Linked DNA regions of Homo sapiens: region 1 is linked to region 2. Evidence: fine-mapped expression QTL. A gene starts in region 2. The other region holds a variant in brackets. All regions are shown on one strand. Distances are between the middles of the regions.

Evidence for each region.
Region 1: its variant is fine-mapped to the expression of ZC3H6 in whole blood (TOPMed, PIP 0.99).

Annotation. Positions count from the first base shown.
Region 1 is chr2:112,158,608-112,170,327 of GRCh38, forward strand. FBLN7 (fibulin 7) reads left to right here. Exons shown (of 8, transcript NM_153214.3): 2 at 1,069-1,228; 3 at 6,394-6,564. Among named protein-coding and RNA genes, the nearest start is that of FBLN7, 26 kb to the left of the region's middle. RefSeq lists an enhancer at 9,697-10,210. The variant G/A (reference allele first, on the strand shown) is at 5,606.
Region 2 is chr2:112,270,517-112,282,236 of GRCh38, forward strand. ZC3H6 (zinc finger CCCH-type containing 6) reads left to right here and starts at 5,081. Exons shown (of 12, transcript NM_198581.3): 1 at 5,081-5,510. The coding sequence starts at 5,479. It also overlaps the pseudogene LOC124906182. RefSeq lists enhancers at 4,783-5,355, 4,971-5,180 and a silencer at 5,371-5,850.

The DNA of each region.
Region 1 (11,720 bases), 110 kb before region 2:
AAAATATTTGTAGTTGAGACTGGGTTTCACCATGTTGGCCACGCTGGTTTCGAACTTCTGACCTCACATGATCCGCTCGGCTCAGCCTCCCAAAGTGCTAGGATTACAGGCATGAACCACCGAGCCTGGCTGAATTTTTAAATTTTTTGTAAAGATGAGGTCTCACTATATTGCACAGGCTGGTCTCGAACTTCTGGCCTCAAGCAATCCACCCACCTTGACCACCCAAAGTGCTGGGATTACAGGCATGAGCCACCGTACCCGGCCAGGAAACCTTGAGAATTTTAGCATTAAGTAGAATGCTGGCACCTCCGGGGAGTGGCCATCTGCCATCTAGAAGACATCACCAGAAACTAACACTGCCGATGCCTTGATCTTGGACTTCTAGCCCCGGAACTGTGAGGAAATAAGTTTCTGTTGTTTGAACAAGCAAACAAAAAGTATGATGCTTGATGCTGCTTTAAGTTAGGTAGCCTTTATCATGATAAGCATGATCCTCCATTTTCTGCCTTTCTATGGCTTAAAAAAAAAATCATCAGAACTGAACATTGACTTTTATTGAATGCCTCTTTAACTCTAGTGAGTTTTTTTTTTTCTTATTTCCCATGTTATATGTCTTTAAAGAATAGGAACCATTGGGCATTCCTGTTTTGCCTGTTTTACATGTATTATTGGCCCTTTGCTTTTAAAAATGTCTAAGAGTGACAGAAAGAAAATGTTTGCCAAGGCCCAGGGTTTTCAGAGCATTAACTTAGAGTGAAGAATTAGAGAGAATCTCTCAGAGTGGCAGCGTGGTGATTATAAGGCTCTTTGGGTTCAAATAACTGTTCATCCACCCGGTCATTTAGAGTCATCCGTCCTGCCTGCATTTTGTTTTTGTCAAGGGGTGAACTGGGGCTACCATGCATGTACTTGGGGCTGTCCAGCGGCAGGTCACTTTTACGTTGCGTTGAGTGAGCTTCAAACGCGGTTTGGACCCCGTGGCTTCGGCGATTTCGGAAGCTCAGACAAGCATGTGGGACTGAGTCAGTCTCAATGGGTGGTGGCGGCGATGTCTTCTCTCCGCAGAACTGTCTCAGCAAACAGCAGCTCCTCTCGGCCATCCGCCAGCTGCAGCAGCTGCTGAAGGGCCAGGAGACACGCTTCGCCGAGGGCATCCGCCACATGAAGAGCCGGCTGGCCGCGCTGCAGAACTCTGTGGGCAGGGTGGGCCCAGATGCCCTTCCAGGTGGGTCCCCACGTCGGCACCGCTGGGGCGGCAGCGCAGCACTCGAGCACTCTCCCCGAGACGCTCCCAGCTGGAGGCCCCTCGTCACCCCTCACCCTTCCCCCATCACCTTCCATCTTCCAACTGTGGCCCCCCCTTTTTTATTTATTATTTATTTATTTATTTATTTTTTTGAGACGGAGTCTCGCTCTGTCGCCCAGGCTGGAGTGCAGTGGCGCGATCTCGGCTCACTGCAAGCTCCGCCTCCCGGGTTCACGCCATTCTCCTGCCTCAGCCTCCCGCGTAGCTGGGACTACAGGCGCCCGCCACCACGCCCGGCTAATTTTTTGTATTTTTAGTAGAGACGGGGTTTCACCTTGTTAGCCAGGATGGTCTCGATCTCCTGACCTCGTGATCCGCCCGCCTCGGCCTCCCAAAGTGCTGGGATGACAGGCGTGGGCCACCGCGCCGGGCCAATCTGTGGCCCATTTGTAAGCCTGGTTGGTGGCAGTGGGGGTGGGGGGAGCACATTAGAAAGGCAGCTGCCCCCTTTCTTCTCCCTCAGCCTCAATGTCACCCCTTTTCTTCTTCAGCCTTTTCATTCTGGCCTTAACAACTATCACGTCTTCATACGGACCAAACTGTTGCAAGGCGCCACTTTTAGATCACGCACTGCTTTTCCCTTCCCCGTCCACAAGTTGGATCCAGTTTTGGTTTTGTTTTCATTTTTGATTTTACTTTAAGATAATTTTTTAGAGCAGTTTTAAGTTCATAGCAGAGTTGAGTGGAAAGCACTGCGTTCCTCCACACCCTCTGTGCGTGCACACACACGCGCACGCACACGCGCACGCACACGCACACGCAGACGCACGCACACGCACACACGCACGCACACACACAAGCACGCGCACACGCACGCACACGCACACACGCGCACGCACACACGCACGCACACGCAGACGCACACGCACGCACACGCACACACGCACGCACACACACGCACACACAAGCACGCATACACGCACGCACACGCGCACACACACACACACACACTCAGCCCGAGCCAGTGCAATACACTGGTTCCAGTCCATGACCAAGGTTGGCTCCAGTGCTTCAGGCGTGAAAGTGCACCCTCCAGGGAGTCCCCGTTAGTACCAGGACGGTTGGGAGGGAAGGGCTGCTGAGGACAAGTTCCACTTGTCTGATGAGGCTACAGCCGACACCCCAGACTCCCTCCCATGAGGGCAGGACTCTGACAGACACAAGGGCACTTTTTCATGCTTGCCCTGTAACAGCTTTCACACCGCCAAGACCCAGAGATGGGCGGCTGGTTTTCCTCCGGTGTCTTAGGGTGCTGGGGGACAGGGGCCAGTCATCATGTTCATTCAAAGTCAGGAGCCTGTGGAATATCTGACATCATTTACTCACTGCAGACACATTTATCAAGGGCTGTCTTTGTTGAGTGAGTTGAAGTTTCCTGGGGAAGGCGTTGGATTTCCTACCTTCTCGGAGATGATGGTGGCAAATCCAGCTCTCAACGGCACTGAGTCCGTTCCTGTTTTCCTTGGCTCCACAGCTGCAGAAATAACCACCAGCCAAGCCTCACACTTTCCAAGGCACTGTGAGGCCCAAGCCCTCACTGGGGCTCCACACACCCCAACTCCATGGTGCAGGCAGGGTGTCTTTCCTTCCTGCCTCAGATGGGGAAACTGAGGCCAAGACAAGTAAGTTAGCGGTCAAGGCCTGACTCCACAAAGCCTTCCTTGTTTTCATGGGGTCAGAGCTGCCTGCGGTCCCTGGGAGTTTCAGTGGAGCCCACAGGGAATGTTATACAATTCCCCTGCCCATGTGAGAGGGCCCTGCCCATGTGAGAGGGCCCTGCCCGCTAGACAGATAGAAAGGCAGTTATTATTACATTATTCATCCTCCTTCCCAAGATTCAGGGGCTTTCATCTCTGAAATGTACAACATTTTTTAAAGTGCCAAATTCTCTTTTTAAAAAATCGCCATCATGTATTGTATTTCTAAGTGTGTGGGGGACCCCGTGCTGGGTACTTTATGCGTGCAGAGGCTGATCCTGTGACAGCCCTGCAGAGGACAGGCAGCTGTCAGGATCCCTTTTCAGGGTGTGGTGGGGGTTGGGCCCGCACCTGGAGGAAAGCCAGACACCTGCCCAGATCAAATGGCACATAGTGGGAAAACTACCTTATTGCTTTTTAAAAGAGAGACAAGGTCTCGCTCTGTCACCCAGGCTGGAGAGCAGTGGAGTGATCCTAGTTCACTGCAGCCTCCCAGGCTCAAGCGATCCTCTCACCTCAGCCTCCTAGGTAGCTAGGATTACAGGTGCACACCACTGCACCTGATTTTGAAAATTTTGTAAAGATGGGGTCTCACTATGTTGCCCAAGCTGATCTTGAACTCCCAGGCTCAAGCGATCCTCCAGCCTCAGCTTCGCAAAGTGCTGGGATTACAGGCGGGTGCTCCTGTGCCAGGCCTGTTTTGCCTTTTTTTTTTTTTTTTAAGGGAATTTGCTGGGAGTCAGGAAGAATAATTTCCAGTTCTGGAGAATTCTTGGTCTTCCTCTCTGGCTTCCATATGAAGTACCTCCCTCCTGTTTCCTGGGTGCATCATCACAACCCATCAGCTTCAGGGTTCATCCAGAGCAGCCTCAGCGGATTCATGTCCCCATGTTGCTGAGACTGCTTAACTGTGGGTCTCACTCCTTACATGCTAACTTCACCTCGGAAGGCGCAGGGAGCTTCGCTGTGGCTCTGCACACTCAGTAGGATGTGCTTCTCGCCAACAGAATCAACCAAAGGACACGTTCCCCTTCTGTCACTAGAGAAGGGCCTTCAGCTCCCATTTGGGATGTGACTACAAATTGATTTTTAATTAATTTGTATCCATTAATCCACTCCATTCACATTTATTAAGCATCTATTAAGTGCCAGATACTGTTCAATCTATTCAGGTATGGTGTATTTGTGAGTTGCAGGTAGTTTTCTTTTGTCGAGGTTTTTAAAGATTTTTCATCCCCAAAGAGACCCTACTATTTTCCCCCAATGCATTTTAAAACTCTTTAACGCAATAAAGTACTAGATGTAAAAAAAAAGAACTATAAAGTAATTTATTTCAGAGGCTGAGGCAGAACCCCGGGAGCAGCCGAGTCCTGGGATGTGAGCTCTCACTCGCTTGCTACTCACAAGGTTATTACCACTGGGGGCCAACTTGGAGCTTTACTCAAGGAAGGCGATGCAGCAATGGGCAGATATTCCCCAATCACCAAAGGCCACCGAGCATCCTCGGAGGGTCCGGCACCTCCCTCCGCCCCAGCTCAGGCTGCCACGGCTGCTCCTCAAAGAACCCTAGGTTGTGTCCGGCCCAGGTGGGATTTTGGGCAGGGCTACACCATCCTGCCAGCTGCACTCCTGGACAGGGAGGCCCATCACGCTCCTTAATGGCCTCTGGTCCAGGACACCCCTGATCAGTGCATCCTCATGGGGGATGCTCAGTGACTCTGTCACTTGCTTTGACCTGCACAGTTGAAGCAACAGTTCTGTTTGTGCCTGTTTAAAATATGAACATGGCAAATGACACTTGGAATTTACCTTAAATGCATTTTAGAAGTGGCTCTGAATTTCCATCTAAACTGAATCCAAATCCAAGCCATCCTAACTTTGGGCATTCCCTCGTCGCCCATGCGTGATGCTCTGTTGCAAAAAGAAGAGGAACAGGCTAGCTTCACCCCGTCTCTCTCCAACCACATCAGTCCTTCGGGAAATCTTCACAGAGCAGCCAGGATTCGAACCATGTCCCTCATGCTCAGCTACTACCCTGGCCTGAGCTTCCCTCCCCTTCCTCTTGTACGGGCACTTCACAATCAAACCGCAGCAGGAGTGCTGCTGAGAGAGACCTCCAGAGGCCCGGTCTCACACGGAGAACAAGTTGCATGGCCTTTTTGTTTTCTTTCCAATGCCCCGTGTAACTCTGAGCTGTCTTGATCCTGTTGCCTGACTCATGTCTAACTACTTTCCACCTCGTCCACTCTATTCCAGTCCTGTTGCCTCCTTGACATTCCTCAGACCTGCCAGGCACATCCCCACCTCAGGATGTTTGACCAGCTGTCCCTCTGCCCTCCCCAGACATCTGTCTGGCTGTGCCTTCACCTTCAACTCGTTCTGGTGAGGCCTGCCCTGACCACTGTATTCAAAATGATGCCCTCTCTCCAGCATCTCCAGCATCATTCCCTGCTTTCATTTTCTACATGGCCCCACACTTCGCCATTGCTTATTATCTCCCCTGCTAGATGGTGGGCTTCCTGAGGGTTGGGTTTTGTCTATTTTGTTCATGGATATAGCCCAAGTCCCTAATATAGTGCCTGCCTAAGTCCCTAATATA[G/A]TGCCTGGCACATAGTAAAGATGCAATAAATAAGGCTCCATTCATTCATTTGTTCAAGAATGATTTATGATTTATCCAGTATTCACTATGTGCCAGGCAGTGGGCTGGTGCTGGGGATACACAGGAACATAGGCCAGATGCATTCTGATGGAGAGGACTGACCGCATATCTAGAAAGAGGCAAGTCAATAAGAAAGTTCGGATGGTTACAGATACTGAGAAGACAGCAGAGTGAGCACCTGGGGAAGAGTGTCTGGGGAGGTCTGGGTTAGGCACGGTGGCCAGGGAACACGCGGGGAGGTGGTGGCATATGAGTGGAAACCTGGAGAGTGAGAAGGAGCCAGTTGTGGAAGCTCTGAGGAAAGAACATTCCAGGCAGAGAGAAGAGCAAAATCCCAGGCCTGGAGCTGGGGCTGAGCCCGGCCTGTTCAGGAGACCTAAAGAAACCCAGGGGGGCTGGAGCCCCAGAAAATCAGAGTGAGTAGGTGGCAGTGATGAAGCGGATCATTGCAGGGTGGGCCTCCCACGCTTCGAGGCCTTGCACACAGCACTTAGTGTCTCTGAGCCCCAGTCTCATCACCTTTTGCTAAGCAGGCATCGTACCACCCATCCCCAAGAGAGCTTTGAGGACTTGATGAGACGCAGCATGCAGAATGACCAGCACAGTGCACAGCCTGCAGCAGGCATGCAACAGAGGGCACTTCGAGATGGGAAGTCCTGTAATTCAGTAATGTCTAAGGGCTGTGGTCCAGGATGAGGAGCTCGTAATCCTTCCATCTCTCCTTACAGTTTCCTGCCCGGCTCTGAACACCCCCGCAGACGGCAGAAAGTTTGGAAGCAAGTACTTAGTGGATCACGAAGTCCATTTTACCTGCAACCCTGGGTTCCGGCTGGTCGGGCCCAGCAGCGTGGTGTGTCTTCCCAATGGCACCTGGACAGGGGAGCAGCCCCACTGTAGAGGTATCGTCTCTCCTTCCCATCCCACTGCGCTGGACCCATCACAGTATAGCAAGGGTTTCTTGCATAGAAAGGGTCATTCCTTGGAACATTTTCTGCTTGGTTCTTTAATCATTCCTCAACCACAGAACAGCAGCCAATGTGCCTGATCACTCACCTCCATGCCAGGTTGGCGCTGGTCTCTATCTGTATGAGCTCACTATATCTTCACAATAATTTAGTCTTGTTTTGCATATGGGGAAACTGAGGCACACAGAGGTTCAAGAACTTGCCTAAGGTTACACAGCTAGGGGGTGGGCGGCACAGTTAAGATGCTTGGCACCTGGACACTCTGACCCCAGAGTCTGCGCTCCTTCACACCACTCTCTGCTCTGGACACCAGTGACTTGTTCTTATCAATGTGAGGGCAAGAAGCTGCTCATGGGTTGGGGAAAGGGACCAGAGGAAGGTACTGCAGGATGATGCTGCTGTGGCTGCTCCGTTCTGGGCCTGCAGTCTGTCTGTGAGGCTGCTGGTAACCTCTGGGGCTGAGGAAACTCCTCAGGTGTCCTTTCTGTCTGCATTGGGACTTGGTATCAAGAGGCTCCAGGAGAGTCCACTGTGTCGGGGAGGCATGAGAAGGCTTCTCTCTGTGCTAGGTTTAAAAACAGCACTTTTTTGATATAGAGGAAAATCAGCCTTGGCACAAAAATCTGTTGGCTTTTCAAAAACCCATGGTCAAAAAAATCTTGGCTACCATTCACCAGTCATTTTCAGAGCAAGGTTCGTGGGACATCTGCTGAGGCAGAATGTCCATGATTCTAGCCAAAGAGTTGAAGGAGAAACACGGACATTATATAAACAAGAAGATTGCAAAAGCAGAGTAGAGAGAGGACTTTGTTTTTGTTTTTGTTTTTGTTTGAGACGGAGTCTCGCTCCGTTGCCCAGTCTGGAGTGCAGTGGCATAATCTCAGCTCACTGCAACCTCTGCCTCCCGGGTTCCAGCGATTCTCCTGCCTCAGCCTCCTGAGTAGCTGGGACTACAGGTGCCCACCACCACGTTCAGCTAACTTTCGTATGTTTAGTAGAAAAGGGATTTCACCATGTTGGCCAGACTGGTCTCCAACTCCTGGCTTCAAGTTATCTGCCTGCCTCGGCCTCCCAAAGTGCTGGGATTACAGGTGTGATCCACCACACCTGGCCAAGAGAGGACTTTGGATGCTTAAATTACTTGAAAACATAGAGGAACTCCAGAAAGTATGCCATCCCTAAAGATGAGTATGGATTGCCATGAGAAGCTCAGGGAAACCAGAATCACATTTACAATTTAGGCTTCTCTTTCCTGACCCCTGGAAAGAGTGATGATGGTTCAAAGGTTGATGACTGGCTCTCAGACCCACCTAGGAACCAGTCAGGAAGTAAAAGTCATGTAACATGCGAACAAAACAGGGGAAATGCCAATATCTGGTATTTACTTACTTGACTCTGAAAGATCTCAAGCCAGGTTAAGCACCTCCTGGGTGATAACCCATGGCGGGGGAGATGGGTACACACAGATATTTCATTTTTATTGTTTTGGGTGTCAGTATTTTTAACTTACAGATTGAGTTACAGACCCTGGTTGGTTTCCTTCTCGGTCTACTCCGCACTTTCAGGACCCATTTGCATTGCCACGTGCAGTCTGCTCCAGTGCCTCTGATAGCTGCCTCGTCCTCTCTGGGGTGCACCCCCACATCTGATCTGTCCACCCCCTGCCATGGGCACCTGATTGCAGTCAACTCCCGGCCACCACAAACAATGTTGACAAGGCCTTCTTATCGCCCTACTTTGTCTCTGGGCTGTGTATCTGTGGCTGGAGAGGGCCTACTGGCTTCAGGCTCGCTTTGAACTGAGCACTGCCTGCCACTCAGCAGAAGGGCTGCACCTGCCCACGCACCCCCAAGCGGTGCTGCAAGCGAAAGCACATCTTACTTATGTGTGTGCTGTTTTTTCTTGCTTGCTCAGATATTATCCAAATATTCTGTCCTCAATGGCGACATACTACAATGCACATCATGTGATTAAAATGAAAAGATGAGTTCATCAGAGATGATAGCAGAAAGAATGCCTTTTTAGGGAGATAGATACAAAACACTGGAGGCCCAGGAACATAGTCGTGAGAAGTGACTCAAGCAAAGGAACATGTGGTTACTTGACAAAGGTGGAGACCCAAAGCGCTCCCCACAGTCCATCTCCATCCTAGTGGCTCGCCAAGAATGCCTTTCTAGAGGATCCTGGGTGTGTCCACGAGCTTCCTTCTTGACCTTGGTTGCTTTAGTTATGCATTTGCACCTGCCTCGCTGCAGCAGGACCCCCTCAATGGAAAAGAGGGTCCTGCCGTGTCCTAACTTGTGCCATGATCTCAAACATTCAGGTCCTCCAGAGTCACCCAGGAAGCTCATGAAAGATAGATTCTGAGGTCTCAAAAGACCGATCCAGTCGGAACTTTTATAGATGAGACCCAAAACATCTGCATTTTTAATATGTTCCCTAAGTAATACTGCTGTTAACTAAATTTTGAGAAGCACCACTTGGTTCGTTCTTGCTATTGCCAGAAGCAGAAAATATATTGAAAATTTTGAAGTGCTAATGCATTTTGGGCCCAAACCAGTCAGAATGACTGCCAGCCACAGGCAAAACAGTAGACAGATGTATGTGTGTCATCTCTGTCCAGGAAAGACACGTTATGTTATGTTATGTTATGTTATGTTATGTTATGTTATGTTATGTTATGTTCACTGCTACTTGCCCTGATGTTTTGGGAAGGCCAAGCCAACTCTTACAAAGATCAGAGCCCACAGCCCTGCTGAGCAGACTTCCCTTTCTTGAGATGTGGAGGGCGGACTTTGCCTGGAGGACCATGGTGCAGAGCAGACGGTCCCACCTGCCAGGCGTCCAGCAAGCCTACTGACCTTTCCCGTGGTCCAACGTGGTATCCTCCCGAGTCTTGCCCTTGGACGTACCAGTTCATTCCAGATGCACCTTGTGCTCGTCTCTCATCTCCCCATAGCCTCCTGCATAGCCCTTTTTCCTTCTACCCTGACTTCCACACCAAAGAGCTGCATGATGCAGCCCACCTTCGGGATGCCTACTCAGACAGCATGTGCTATCAAAAACTTGGGAAGGACTAACTCAGGGAACAAGGTGATGGCCAGTCCAGGATGAGATCTTAGATGGAGATTTTTCTTCTCTTGAAGCATAGATGGGGCCTGGGCATTGACCCCATGGTGGTGATTGAACAAAAATACTCATGTGTTACAACCAAGCTGCTCCAGCAGCTGCTGGCCACGGCCCCTCCTAAGTGAGTAGACTCTGCCTGCACCGACACTTCTGTTCTCAGCAGGAATTGATGTGATTCATGGTTGTTGTCTCCAGCAAGAGCCTCAAAGCGGTGTCAGCCAAACTTGCCAGGAGGGAGAAATAGTGCTCCTGACTGCTGTTTGATGACCAATTGTGACAGTATTAAGGGTGTGGACGGGACACAGGCTGGAACTCAACAATCTAGTGACCAAACCTAGAAACTTACCAGCAACCACTGAGCACACCCACTGCATGTTCCAAACCACCAGTCGTGTGGTTGCCATGTGTTATGACCACAGAGTGGGGGTGGGGCATAATCTTCTTAATTACAGAGAATTCATTTCAAGGCCCAAAATATCAGTGCCAGTGACAAATTTGGCAGTGCTGTCATAATTGTCCCTCACTCCAACTCTAGTCAGCTGCTTGGAAAGACAGTGATGAACCCAACTTGGCAGGGAAGGAAATTGTGTGTACACAATTACGCCATTAAAAAACAGCAGGCAGGCCAGGAGCGGTGGCTCACGCCTGTAATCCCGGCACTTTGTGAGGCCAGGGCAGCAGATCACCTGAGGTCAGGAGTTCAAGACCAGCCTGGCCAACGTGGTGAAACCCCATCTCTACTAAAAAATACAAAAATTAGCTAGGCGTGGTGGTGGGCACCTGTAATCCCAGCTACTCAGGAGGCTGAGGCAGGGAGAATTGCTTGAACCTGGGAGGCAGAAGTTGCAGTGAGCCGAAATCACACCACTGCACTCCAGCCTGGGTGACACAGCAAGACTCCGTCTCGGGAGAAAAACAAACAAACAAAAACAAACAAAACAAAACAAAAAAACAGCAGGCGTAGGTGGACTCCAGAACTCCAGAGTGGAAAGCAGCCACTTGGCTTTCTCCATTTCTCCTTTATTTTCCTTTTTTCCTCCTCCTTTCTCTGAAGGCCATGTTTTTAAGACGTAAAGCTTTCTGAATTGGTAACCATAGCTGAAGATCTTGTGCCTTTGACAACGTGGGTAACCAAAGAAACGAATTTGAGAGATATAAATACCGTTGTCACTTATCGTCATGCTGGTGGAAAGGAATCTTTGTCAGTCGTCCCCACCCTTTATTTTTAACCTTCATTCTTTCATTCAGCCAATTTTTACTGAGCACCAGCCATTCACAAAGCTGGTGCCAGATGCCAGGGACTCAATGTCGAATCCCACAGACACGACCCTGGCCTCTGGGGTGCACAGGCTAAGAGGGGAGGCAAAGCAAAGCAGGCAGCCACACACCAAGGGAAGCGAGCTGACGTTTGTGGTGAGGGCCACACATGACCTAACAAGGGACAGAGTAAACAGCACGGGGCAAGGAGCAGTTGAGGGCCTCTGAGCAGGGGACAATGACACTGAGATGAAAGGAGGAATGGGATCTAGCCAGGCAAAGAGCAGGTAGTTGGGCAGCACAGGGCAGACACTGTTTTAAGAAAAGGAAGAAGGGGCCAGGCGCGGTGGTTCATGCCTGTAATCCTAGCACTTTGGGAGGCCGAGGTGGATGGATGACTTGAGGTCAGGAGTTCGAGACTAGCCTGGCCAACATGGTGAAACCCCGTCTCTAATAAAAATGTAAAAAGTTAGCTGGGTGTGGTGGCAGGCGCCTGTAATCTCAGCTACTTGGGAGGCTGAGGCAGAAGAATCGCTTGAACCCGGGAGGCGGAGATTGCAGTGAGCTGAGATCGCACCATTGCACTCCAGCCTGGGTGACAAGAGCAAAACTCCATCTCAAACAAAACAAAACAAAACAAAAACAGAAAAGAAAAGAAAAGAAAAAGAAAAGGTGAGTGGATCACTTGAGGTCAGGAGTTCGAG
Region 2 (11,720 bases):
GATGCAAGATATTTATATAAATGAAAGACATATAGGAAAAATTTCAACATTGTATTAAGAGATATGAGTCCTAAATAAATGGAGAGATATTACATATTCACAAAATGAAAGACACAACTAAGCAATTGTCAGTTCTTTCAAAATTGGTCTATCAATTCAAGGCAATGCTAATAAAAATCTCAAGTTTTCTTTATGGAACTTGATAACTCTAAAAGTTCTATCAAATTATAAATTCTAAATGACTACTTCTAAACTCTATATTAAAACTTAAGGCCGTGTGTGGTGGCTCAATCCTGTATTGCTAGTACTTTGGAAGGCTGAGGCTGGAGGATTGCTTGAGGCCAGGAGTTCAAGACCAGCCTGGGCAACACAGCGAGCCCCTGTCTCTACAAAAATAAAGACATAGGAAAAAATTACAAAATTGTATTAAGAGAAATGAGTCCTAAATAACACAGCGAGACCCTGTCTTTACAAAAATACAAATAAATTAGCCAGCCTGGGCACATAGTAAGACCTCGCCTCTACAAAAAATAAGCCAGATGTGATAGAGTGTACCAGTGGTCCCAGCTACTTGGGGCAGTGGGGGGGTGTGGACAGCGGGTGATGGCGGTGGCTGAGGTGGAAGGCTGCAGTTCTAGTTCTTGTATTATCTAGTGTGATATCTGTGATACATACACTCCTCCTTATCTGAGGCAATTAAAGACAAGGTGTCACAGATCACTAAGCACTATAATTGTGCCACTGCACTCCAGCACATCTGGATGTACTGAGGTCATAACAAGGCTTGATGAGGCACATCTCACGCGTGCACATGAAAATCTAATCATCATGCTTATGAGCTGCAAAAGAATTGGAGGCAACATTTTAAAAGTACTTTTTCAGGCTGGGTGCTGTGGTTCACACTTGTAATCCCAGCACTTTGGAAGGCCCAAGCGGGCGGATCATCTGAGGTCATGAGTTAGAGACCAGCCTGGCCAACATGGTGAAACCCCGTCTCTACAAAATACAAAAATTAGCCGGGTGTGGTGGTGCACGCCTGTAGGCCCAGCTACTCGGGAGGCTGAGACAGGAGAATCACTTGAGCTCAGGAGGTGGAGGTTGCAGCGAGCCGAGATCATGCCACTGCACTCCGCCTGGGTAACAGAGTGAGACTCTGTTTTAAAATAAAATAAAAGTACTTTTTCAAAGACATGGCTACTGTTCAGATGCTTGTATTTTTAGGGTGTGTGTGTGTGTGTTAAAAACTTTCCAGTGACTAACACAAGTATTCATTTGTAACCTCAGTGTGTACTGTACGGGGAATTATTCCTGCCAATTTAATTCTAACTCTAAGCCCCTATTCCGGTAGGTAGACAGAAAACAGTTGTAACTGGGGCTCCCTCCCCCTGCCTAGGGCCACATATACATTTAGGGTTTGTATAAGCTACCAGGAAGGATGGGGTAAGGGTCCCCTAATCTTCCAGCTAGGATGATCACCTAGGAGACCGTTTTTGTCCCAAGTCTGACCAGTCTCCGAATGTCTAGTGGTCCAATATTGGGAGCCTTGGTATACCAGGGCTTATTCTTACCATCTGGGACAAAACACGGGCAATAAAAGGAATTTTTCTTAACACTAAATGTAAAGGAATTCAAAGTAAAGTAATTGGCTTTTTAAAGTATATCCTTGGCCAGGCGCGGTGGCTCACGCCTGTAATCCCAGCACTTTGGAAGGCCGAGGCGGATGAATCACTCAAGGTCAGGAGATAGAGACCAGCCTGACCAACATGGCAGAAACCACCGTCTCTATGAAAAATACGAAAATTAGCGGGCATGATGGTGCGTGCCTGTAATGCTAGCTGCTACTCGAGAGGCTAAGGCATGAGAATTGCTTGAACCCAGAAGGCAGAGGTTGCAGTGAGCCGAGATCGTGCCACTGCACTCCAGCCTGTGAAGTGAAACTCTGTCTCAAAAAAAAACCCAACAAAAACCAACGAAACAAAAATAATGATATCCTTCCTACTTTCTTGATGTTAAAATGTCTTTTATGAAATAACCGTAAGATGTTTAATATGTTTAATTTATTTAGCAAAATAAAGTGTTGGTACCTTTATGTCCGTTACAATTTTTGTGTGGATAGAGGGTGGGGAAGGTTGACAAAGATAAAAAAACCTGGACATTAAAGTGGTGAAAACCAATTTTATTCAGTAATTACTAACAGTAGGGGAAAGAGCAGCGTTCCATTTCAATGCAGAGATAATTGAGCAGCTTAAAGAGAGAATAAGGGAGGGGGAAAGAGCCGGAATACATGCAAAACATTTCAAAGTCTGTCAGTATAAAAGTGATTAGATCAGCTGCGTCAGCTAGCTGGCGATTATCACTGAAGTCAGGATTCTACCCTCCCACCAAGAATGGGAGATAGCAACCTTCCAGATGATTAAATTTCAAAGGAATGGCTTTCAGGTCCTTAAGAAAGATACTCCTGAATTGTAGGAGAGAACACATACGTGTCAAGGGGACAGAGGAAGGACTCACAATTGTAAGCTCTTTTTTTGTAAATGCTCCAAGAAAGGGGGTCAAGGGCCTATGGCCAGGTGGGCAGTGTTGAGTTTTCTCTGGGAGACATTTAACCGAGAGGCCCGGGGAGAGATCTGCGGTCATCCTACGAACACGACCTTATGCTGCTACAAGGCTCGCTATAGTTTGGTGGTCTCCTTTTGCTGAGGTTTGGACAAGGTCATTACGTGACAAGAGTTCTGCAGTTCTCATGATCCATATGTCATTATTAGGTAAAATCTGTTAGGTTTAAAATTAATTAGTGTAATCTCTTTGATACCTACATTGCTCCTTAACTGAGGCAATTAAAGACAAGGTGTCACAGATCTCTAAGCACTTCTAGATTCTAAAAACCCATAGCCTCAAAGGAGCACTGCCCCTCAATGCTCACCCCCACACACCTCCCCTTTCTGTTACCTAGAGAAAAAGACCAAGACCTGATGACAAATTTTACCATCAAACTTAAGTGGCGCATGCCAACGGTTCGAAAAGGAGGCTTTTCATCCAGAGAGAACTGCACTGTCCTACGCCATCACAAACCAAACACCTTAACGAAGGCTTGAAAGAAATTCTCAGACCTCCAGATACAGGAGACAGGGGAAAACAGAAGTGCAAGAAAGAACAGCAACTGTTTACCACAAGGGCCTCTGGATAACTTCAAGAAAGCAGTTACCCAAATTAGCTACAGAAAGGCCTAAATTAACTAAAACAGTTACGATAAAACCGAAGTCCTGAGATTTTAATGTAACTCCAAATGTTAACATAGTTTCTTCATAGTACCTTCATAGTACCTTTTGAAAGCTCCCTACAAATTTATTATGGTAAAGTGTGGCTATAAGTACAGGTCCTGTCACTGGCTGCATTCAACTGAAAAAAAAAAAAAAATAGTGCGACCACAGCTCCTGTCACTGGCTGTATTCAACTTTAAAAAAAAAAAAAGGGGCGACTTTTTTTTTTTTTTAAGACGGAGTTTCGCTTTTGTTGCCCAGGCTGGAGCGCAATGACTCGACCTCGGCTCACCGCAACCTCCGCCTCCCGGGTTCAAGCGATTCTCTTGCCTCAGCTTCCCGATTAGCTGGGATTACAGGCATGGGCTACCACGCCTGGCTTATTTTTATTTTTAGTAGAGACTGGGTTTCTCCATGTTGGTCAGGCGGGTATCGAACTCCCGACCTCTGGTGATCTGCCCGCCTCAGCCTCCCAAAGTGCTGGGATTACAGGCGTGAGCCATTACGCCCGGCCTTTATTTTCAATGTATATGTTAATATCAAAAACTTTACATTTCCAATTTAATCCACTCATTGCAATTGTTTTTGAATGCATTCCATTTATGTATTAGTAAAATGTATTATTAAGGAAAGACAAATTAAGTCAGATATTTGGATTAATCATTGAGTCTATCATTTTAGTAAAAAGCAAGGAACTTTCCTTCAGGACTAATATATTAAATAGGCCAAAACACTGACTTGTCATTTAAAAATTTTTTAAGGTCACTTCATAAGTATAAAAAACTCATGCATGGTCGGGCGCGGTGGCTCACGGCTGTAACCCCAGCACTTTGGGAGACCCAGGAGGGCGGATCACCTGAAGTCAGGAGTTCGAGACCAGCCTGGCCAAAATGGGGAAACCCCATCTCTACTAAAAATACAAAAATTAGCCAGGCGTGGTGGCGCGTGCCTGCAGTCCCAGCTACTCGGGAGGCTGAGGCAGGAAAATTGCTTGAACCCAGGAGGCAGAGGTTGCAGTGAGCCGAGAGCGCGACACTGCACTCCAGCCTGGGCGACAGAGGAGACTCCATCTCAGAAAAAAAAAAAAAAAAAAAAAAAAAAAAAAAAAAAAAAGGCATGCCTAATAGTATTTATAAAATACTCGCATACATTTTACATGTTAATATTATTACGAAATAAAGTAACGTTTATATAATTATTTCAATAGCTATTCCTATTTAAGTAATAATTGGGTAAATTTAACAGCAAATACAAGAAAAAACTGCATGGCAAGCTATTTTCCTTAAAACATGATTCTGAACACTAAACGTTACAAAAACAGATACTTGCTACAACTGTGAAGGAGAAACTGCATTTCCCTATTATTACAAGAACAAAGGTTTTCACAAAAAAATTTAAGGACTCTACAGCCGCCTTGTTCTTTGTTATCCCACCCCTGCCCGCCTCGGCTAACGGTTTTGGGGCCCGTTTGCTTGGTGCGTCTGGAACTCCTCGGGCGGCGGGCGTCTCGCAGGAAAAACCGCGGCCCGTACTGCGCCGGGAGCAGAAGCGCTGGTGGCCCTCGTAGGTCCCGTGGGCTGCCTCCCCCTCCTGCAGACACTCGAGGAGCCATCCGGCCGCGTCTCTCGCCGCCCGGCCCCGCCACTAGGCTGCCGCCTCCGCCGCTGCACAGAGAAGGGCGAAGACCCGCCCCTGCAGGTGATTGACGGGCACTCTCCTCCAATGGTCAACGCGCTCGGCCCCGGCGGGCTGGGCAAGGGCCGCGGCTCGCGGAGGAATCTCTCTTGCCCTTTAGTCCCGGGCAAGGTGTTGCGGCCGGCGCCATTTTCTCGAGCCGCCTGTTTCGGGTGCCGCCATGTTGGTGAGGAGAAATCACCGTTACGGCCACTGTCCAAATCCCCGCGTCGCTGCACGCCGCCCGCCCGCTCCCACGCCACAGCCACCGGCGGCGAATAGAGACTAGAGCGGCAGCGCCGGCAGCGCGGGGCCGTTGCCCAGTGTTTGCAGTTAGAGCCCCATCTCTCTGGCGTGGTTGTTAATAGACTGGAAAGTCTGTGTCTGTGTCGCTCACTAGTAACCGTGAGTTTTTACCACTTCGTCACCTGTCGGCGGCGGCCGGGAGCAGGTTCCCGCAGGCGGCGCGGGGGGTCTTCCCCGCGCCCCGCCGCCGCCGGCCTCGCAGACCTGCCCTCCAGCCCCGCCCCGTTCTTGACCAAACATGACAGACTCTGAACATGCAGGGCACGACAGGTCGGGAACCCTTCTTGTCTGTCTTTCTGTCGGATGAGAGGAGGGGTCTGGGGCGGCGGGAGCGGGCCGGGGCCGGGCGCCTCCTGCATGACCTAGACGTCTCTGTGTGGCTCCGTCAGTTCCATGACGCGCACTCTTATGTAAACTGCTGGATCGCGGCCGCGGGGGAGGTCGGCCCGGCCGCGCCCGCCTCCCCGAGCCGGGGTCGCTGCTCGCCAGCGCCGGCCCCGCCCCCGGCCGGGCACGTGCGAGCCCCCCGCCCCCCGGGCGGGCTCCGTGTGCGCCGGGCGGCTCTCAGCGTCCCGGCTCGGTGCTGAGGTCCTGCTTCTGCCCGTCCAGGTGTCGGTGCTCCCGGCCAGATAGGACCAGCCAGGAATTTTCAGGAATGGGTGTTTTGATATTTGACTGCTTCCCGAGAACCGAGAACACCTCTAAAAAAATAAACATTTGGTTTTCAGGGAAGTTTTAAGCAGCACCAAAAGGCCATCTGTTGTATACAGTCTTATCCCTTGGAATTTGAGATGGCAAGTTTCAAGTTTAATATGTTAACACAAAATACTTAGGCTTTGCAGAAACTTAGTTTAGCACAGTTTTACCCTAACGTAAAAACTCCATGGATTATTCCGGCTAGCCCAATTTTCTAGATGGTGTGTATCACTTGAATATTGAGATTCTGATTTTTTATTTTTTGCTCTGTGCCTTAAGAGGCACATTCTTGTTTCCATTCGAGTTTGGGGACATTTACAAAGTATACTGTAGCATACTTAAATTTTGGTTATAATTCAAATTTTCATTCGTATATATCTTTAATAATGCGAAAGGGGGGCTTTCATTCATTAAACTTACTGAAACAAAATCCATTGCATCTGATTCTTACTTAGAATATTAATTTGAAAATCTAGAACCTCACAATTACTCCTTTGTGAATAGAAGTAAGAAAAAATATACGTTTTACTATAGACTATATACATTGCTGAAGTTTTATCTGTAGTAATGTGATCGGCTTGGTAAAGCATCCTAAACACGTTTTTTAAAACCCAGAAGCAAAAATCACAAACACTGCTGAAATTTGAAATATCTAAATACCTAGCAATCTTGAGAGGGATAAAAATGGTATTTCAACAACTTCAGTATTGTAATAATAAAAGTAGATTCCCAGAGGGCACGTCAATCAAAGTGTAAAAATTTTTGGAAAGTAAAATGCACTTTTAAAAATGATAAGCTTGCACTTGGCACATTTTTAATGATTTTTTTAACGTTATCTTTTGTATTAAAAAGGAAATTCTTAGAATGGGTTGACTAATACCTTGCTCTTGAGGTATGGACAAACCAATGATGGGGTTTTGCTAATGGAGCCTAAAATCCTTTTTTTTTTTAATATGGAAGAATATCTGTTCCCCTCTCTTAGTGCACAAAGTAACTTCTATATATGGAGTTATGTATTGTACATCATGAAAAAACAATGCCATCAAATTCAAGTATCAAAATAATTTTGCTGGTAAGGAACTGTGATGACAGACCTTTTAAAGAATTTGAAATTTTAAAATACTGGTTTAGAGGTTAGAAAACTTTAAAGAATTATTTGTAAGATATGTTAATAGGTTGGTAGTAGGAGCTAAAGATTAAGATTAGTCTATTTTATTTAAAATTCGGACTAAAAGTATTTTCTAGTGATTTCTGAAACAAAAAGGTTAGCTCCACTTTAACTTAGCCAATTGTTAAGTGGCATCATTGTGCTGAGATGAAGGAGATGGTTTTTTTTTTTCATGCTTTTTTTGTCAACCCACATGAAAAACAAAACAACTACATCAAAAACAAAGTGAACTAGAAGTCAGGAGAAATTCTACAAGATCAGATCAATGGTTCTAAACCTTCCCTGGGGAACTTTTTTTCTTTAAAGTATTGGCGCTATTTCTGTTGGTCTGGACCTCAGCCTGGGTTTTAAGAGTTCTAAAAGCTCCCCAGGAAATTCTAATATGTGCCAAATTGAGAACCGCTATACTCGATCAGTGTTTCCCAATGATAGTTAATCATCAGAATCACTTTGGGGAATAAATTTTTGTTCTGCCCAGAGCAACTGAATCAGAATCTCTAGGGTATTTTTCATAGGCTCCCTGGGAAATTCTTAAGAAATTTGGGGAAAAAATGGACTAATCTGCGGGCTTCCAAAATACTGTATCTTTCCATATAATAGCTATTTTATGCTGTTATAAAAGTTTCTGTGAATTAAGTGGAGAAAAATATATGAAACTTGGTATATGGAGCTAGGCTTTGTCTCAAGGATTTTATTTTATTTATTTTATTTTTTTGAGACGGAGTCTCGCTCTGTCGCCCAGGCTGGAGTGCAGTGGCACTGTCTCAGCTCACTGCAAGCTCCACTTCCCGCCTTCACACCATTCTCCTGCCTCAGCCTCCTGAGTAGCTGGGATTACAGGCACCCGCCACCACACCTGGCTAATTTTTTGTATTTTTAGTAGAGACCACGTTTCATCATGTTGGACAGGCTGGTCTTGAACTCCTGACCTCAAGTGATCCACCAGCCTTGGCCTCCCAAAGTTTTGGGATTACAGGGGTGAGCCACTGTGCCCAGCCAAGGATATTCTTTTTATAACATTTTCAAAAATTAAGGCATATTGTGTATGCAGGAAAAAAAATGAAGCCTATGATTTATATTTACAATTGCTTTGATTTTATACAAATTAAAATATTACTGTTTATGAGAATGAGATTCTAAATGTAAATGGAATTCACAGAATGCATAATTTTTTTCTCGTTTAAAGAAATAGAGTCTCGCTATATGCCTAGGCTGGTCTTGAACTCCTGGGCTCCAGCCATCCTCCCATTTCAGCCTCCCAGAGTGTTGGGATTACAGGCGTGAGCCACCACGCCTGGCCTTGTACATGTTATATAGTGAACATTTTGCACAAGATTGTTTGCCAAATGAATAATTTAAAAAAAATCCATTTAGTGTACTTTCCTTTAAATATTTTCACACCTGGAGTTAAAACATTGTATTTTATAAGATGTTATTAATATAAAAATACTTCTAATTCTACTTGTGGCTATGTAGAATGTAGTAGAGGACTTTTGCATAAGCCCAGAGCCTAGTTTCTAAAGGTCTTTAGGGATTTAGGGAAATCAGAGGGAGGTATAATTCTGGTCTCTCGTCGTTCAGTTCTTTTTCATTCAGTTCTCTCAGGCACGACTCCAGCCGCTCAGTTTTATATTTCAACTGGATGTTGACCCAATTAAAACAATTCACAACTCCTGAAGACGAAATACTATGAGTCCCTGCTTTGGACACATCTGTAGTAGAGTAGGAAAAGATAAATATAACCCAAGTAATTGTTACAGAATTTTCTGAAATATACTAATGGTAAAAGGTTTTGTAGGGCTTGTACTGGGGAAAAAGATAATTTTTTAGCATGAACCTTTTAAGAGCTTGTGAGTCTCAAAGAGTCTTTAACTGATAGGTGATATGGATAATACTCCCCTTTGGGAGGAGGTTTATAATACATAAACAACCTCCCCACCCTTCCCTCGCAGCTTTCTGTCCTGTACTACAAGAACAACAAAACTCCAACTAGTCAGAATTGCAAGTGGTTTATGGCCCCCCATATAGATTGAAAACTTGCTAAGAGACTGCACTGGAGAACCTGAAAGGATGAGGATGGAAAAGATGATTATACTTTTCATTTGCAACAGGGCTTTCATTTGATTCTCACATTAATCCCATGTGGTAGTTAATTAAGGTAGCATTACAAGGTTCAGTGAATTGTCTGAGATCTCATAAATACAACCTAGATAAGAACCCAGGTATTATTATTTTCAGTCTTGCAATATTATTTTCCTACTTGCAATATTATCTTCACTCTTCATTAAGTTTGCACAGCAAAGTAATGGAATAAGTTCTGGGCTTTAATCCTTGAGTAGTTTGGAATTGTAATGTGCTACATTTGAGAGAGAGCCCTTCATTTTGAATAAAACCTTGGTACTGATCCTGATCTTCTAACTTGGGTTAATGCTCTTCCCCTTTTCATTATTTTTTTCATTTGTGAAATGAAGTAGTTGCACTAGATCATTTTCAATTTTCCTTCCCACTTAAATCAATTTTAATTAAAAAAATTGCAGATGCCTTTTCTCAGATTAGAGTACACTTTTTGCTCCACACAATATCTGGTTTGTAAATTAGTATGTTCCGTGGAGTAAATAACTTTCCTGACTAGCCATTAACTTACTTCTGATTCCTGAATCCACTAATTTAACTATTGTTGAAATTACTAAAGGAAATTTTTCTTTAGCAAATGTAAAACCTCGTATCAGGTCTCAGGTTTGATGTTGTAAAGCACTCTGACTCTCAGGAAGACTCTTTTTTTCCCCCAACCTCTCATAAACAAATATTTCATTCATTATAAAATTTCATTCATTACATTTTCATTCCTCAGACTTAACAGTGTTTCGTCTCTGCTAAGTATAGTGTTAAGCACTGACAAAAGAACTCTGGACACAACATCATGAACTTGCTCTCTGGGATCTTATAATCTAGTTGCAGAAACAGATTGGTAAATACATAGTATAGCACAAGTACTATAATGGAGGCCTGAACTGAGTGCTGTGGGGGTACACAGATGAAGGCTTCTGGGAGACATCATGGCATAACTAGACCTGGAGGATGAATAAAACTTTGGCCAAGTAAATACAGAGATACACGAAAAGCATGGATAAATGGCACAAGTAGGTTCAGGGATGATAAAAGTGTTAGTATGTGGAGAGTGTACAACTATTTTGGGGAATGGGGAAACGGATTAAATTTGGGGCCAGACCCTGAAGGATGTGGGGATCCCATCAAAGTCTTTTAAGCAGGAGAATGATCAGATGCATTTTTTGGTATACTACCTGGGGGATAGGAGGAAATGGACTACAGAAGGGGAGATCAGTAGAAGGAAGACAAGTTAGGAAGCTTTTCAGTCATTTTCATTAAACATGAAGCTTAATATGTATTGTTCTAGGATCAGGAATACAGCAATAAAGAAAAAACTTGGTGTAATGAAACATATTTTCTTGGGAGAGACAGAAAATAAACATGAAAAACAGATGTGTTCAATGGTGATAAAGCAGAAAGGGAGATGGGGAGTCAAGTGGATGTGGGGAGGGTGTTTAGGGAAGCACTTATGAAAGAGTAACATTTGAGCAAAGAGCCCTGATACAAGACAACAATTCAGACCCAAGACATTTGAGGAAAGAGCATCCATATAAAGGGAGTGGGAGGTAGAGAAAGCCTGGACCAGGAATGAGCCTGGTATGATTGAGGAAAACACAAGGGATTTCACTCTTGAGTGACCTGGGAGCTAATGGGGGATTAAACAGAGGAGGGACAGGATCCTCTATGGTATATGGTAAGTGAGTAGTATGGTAAATGAGGTAAATGAATAGTAAAAGGAACTGCTGTGGTAATTTAGGTAACAGATGATGATGGTTTAGGTGAAAATGGTTGGATTGTGGATATGGTTTGATTGGTTTTAGAACCAATAGGATTTACTGGTGGCTGGATGTGGACAATGAGAGAATAGAATGAACCAAAGCTATTGTAAACGTCTAGAAATCAGATGAGGACTTGACCAAAGGCATTGGCAATGAGAAAGTAGGCACAATTCATGAGGTATTTCTTAGCATTGATAGAGTTGGATATAAATATCTGGAATTTTTAGCTGATTGAAATGTTAGTTGAAATGAATGATACCACTCAAGGTATGTGTGTCAAGAGGTATGGAGAAGAGCACAGAAGTTTTTGGAAACCAAGGGAGGAGAAAAGAAGGGATAGTCACAGAGCAGTAAAGAAAAATAAAGGTTAAAAATAGGTCACAGGATGTACATTATCCTAAGTTAAAATATTTTAAGGTTTGAATGAAAGGGTGCTGCAGGGTTTGCAAACTGGTGGGCTTCAGGCCTAAAATCTGCCTATACTGTTGTTTTTGCCTGACAGAATATCTTAAAATATCTGTATTTGAAAGCATTTAAGGCTTGACTTGTGCTCTACACTCCACAGTCTTATCATTCATAGTTTCTTGGCAAACTCACCACTCAAGGTGTGCCTCACTTATTTAGGAGATCTGCCTCACTAGGGTAGACATTTTAGGTTTATGACTCTTAAGTTTTCACCTGGACAGATTGGCTACCAAAAAGAACCTCACAGGTGGGTGACCTTGAATT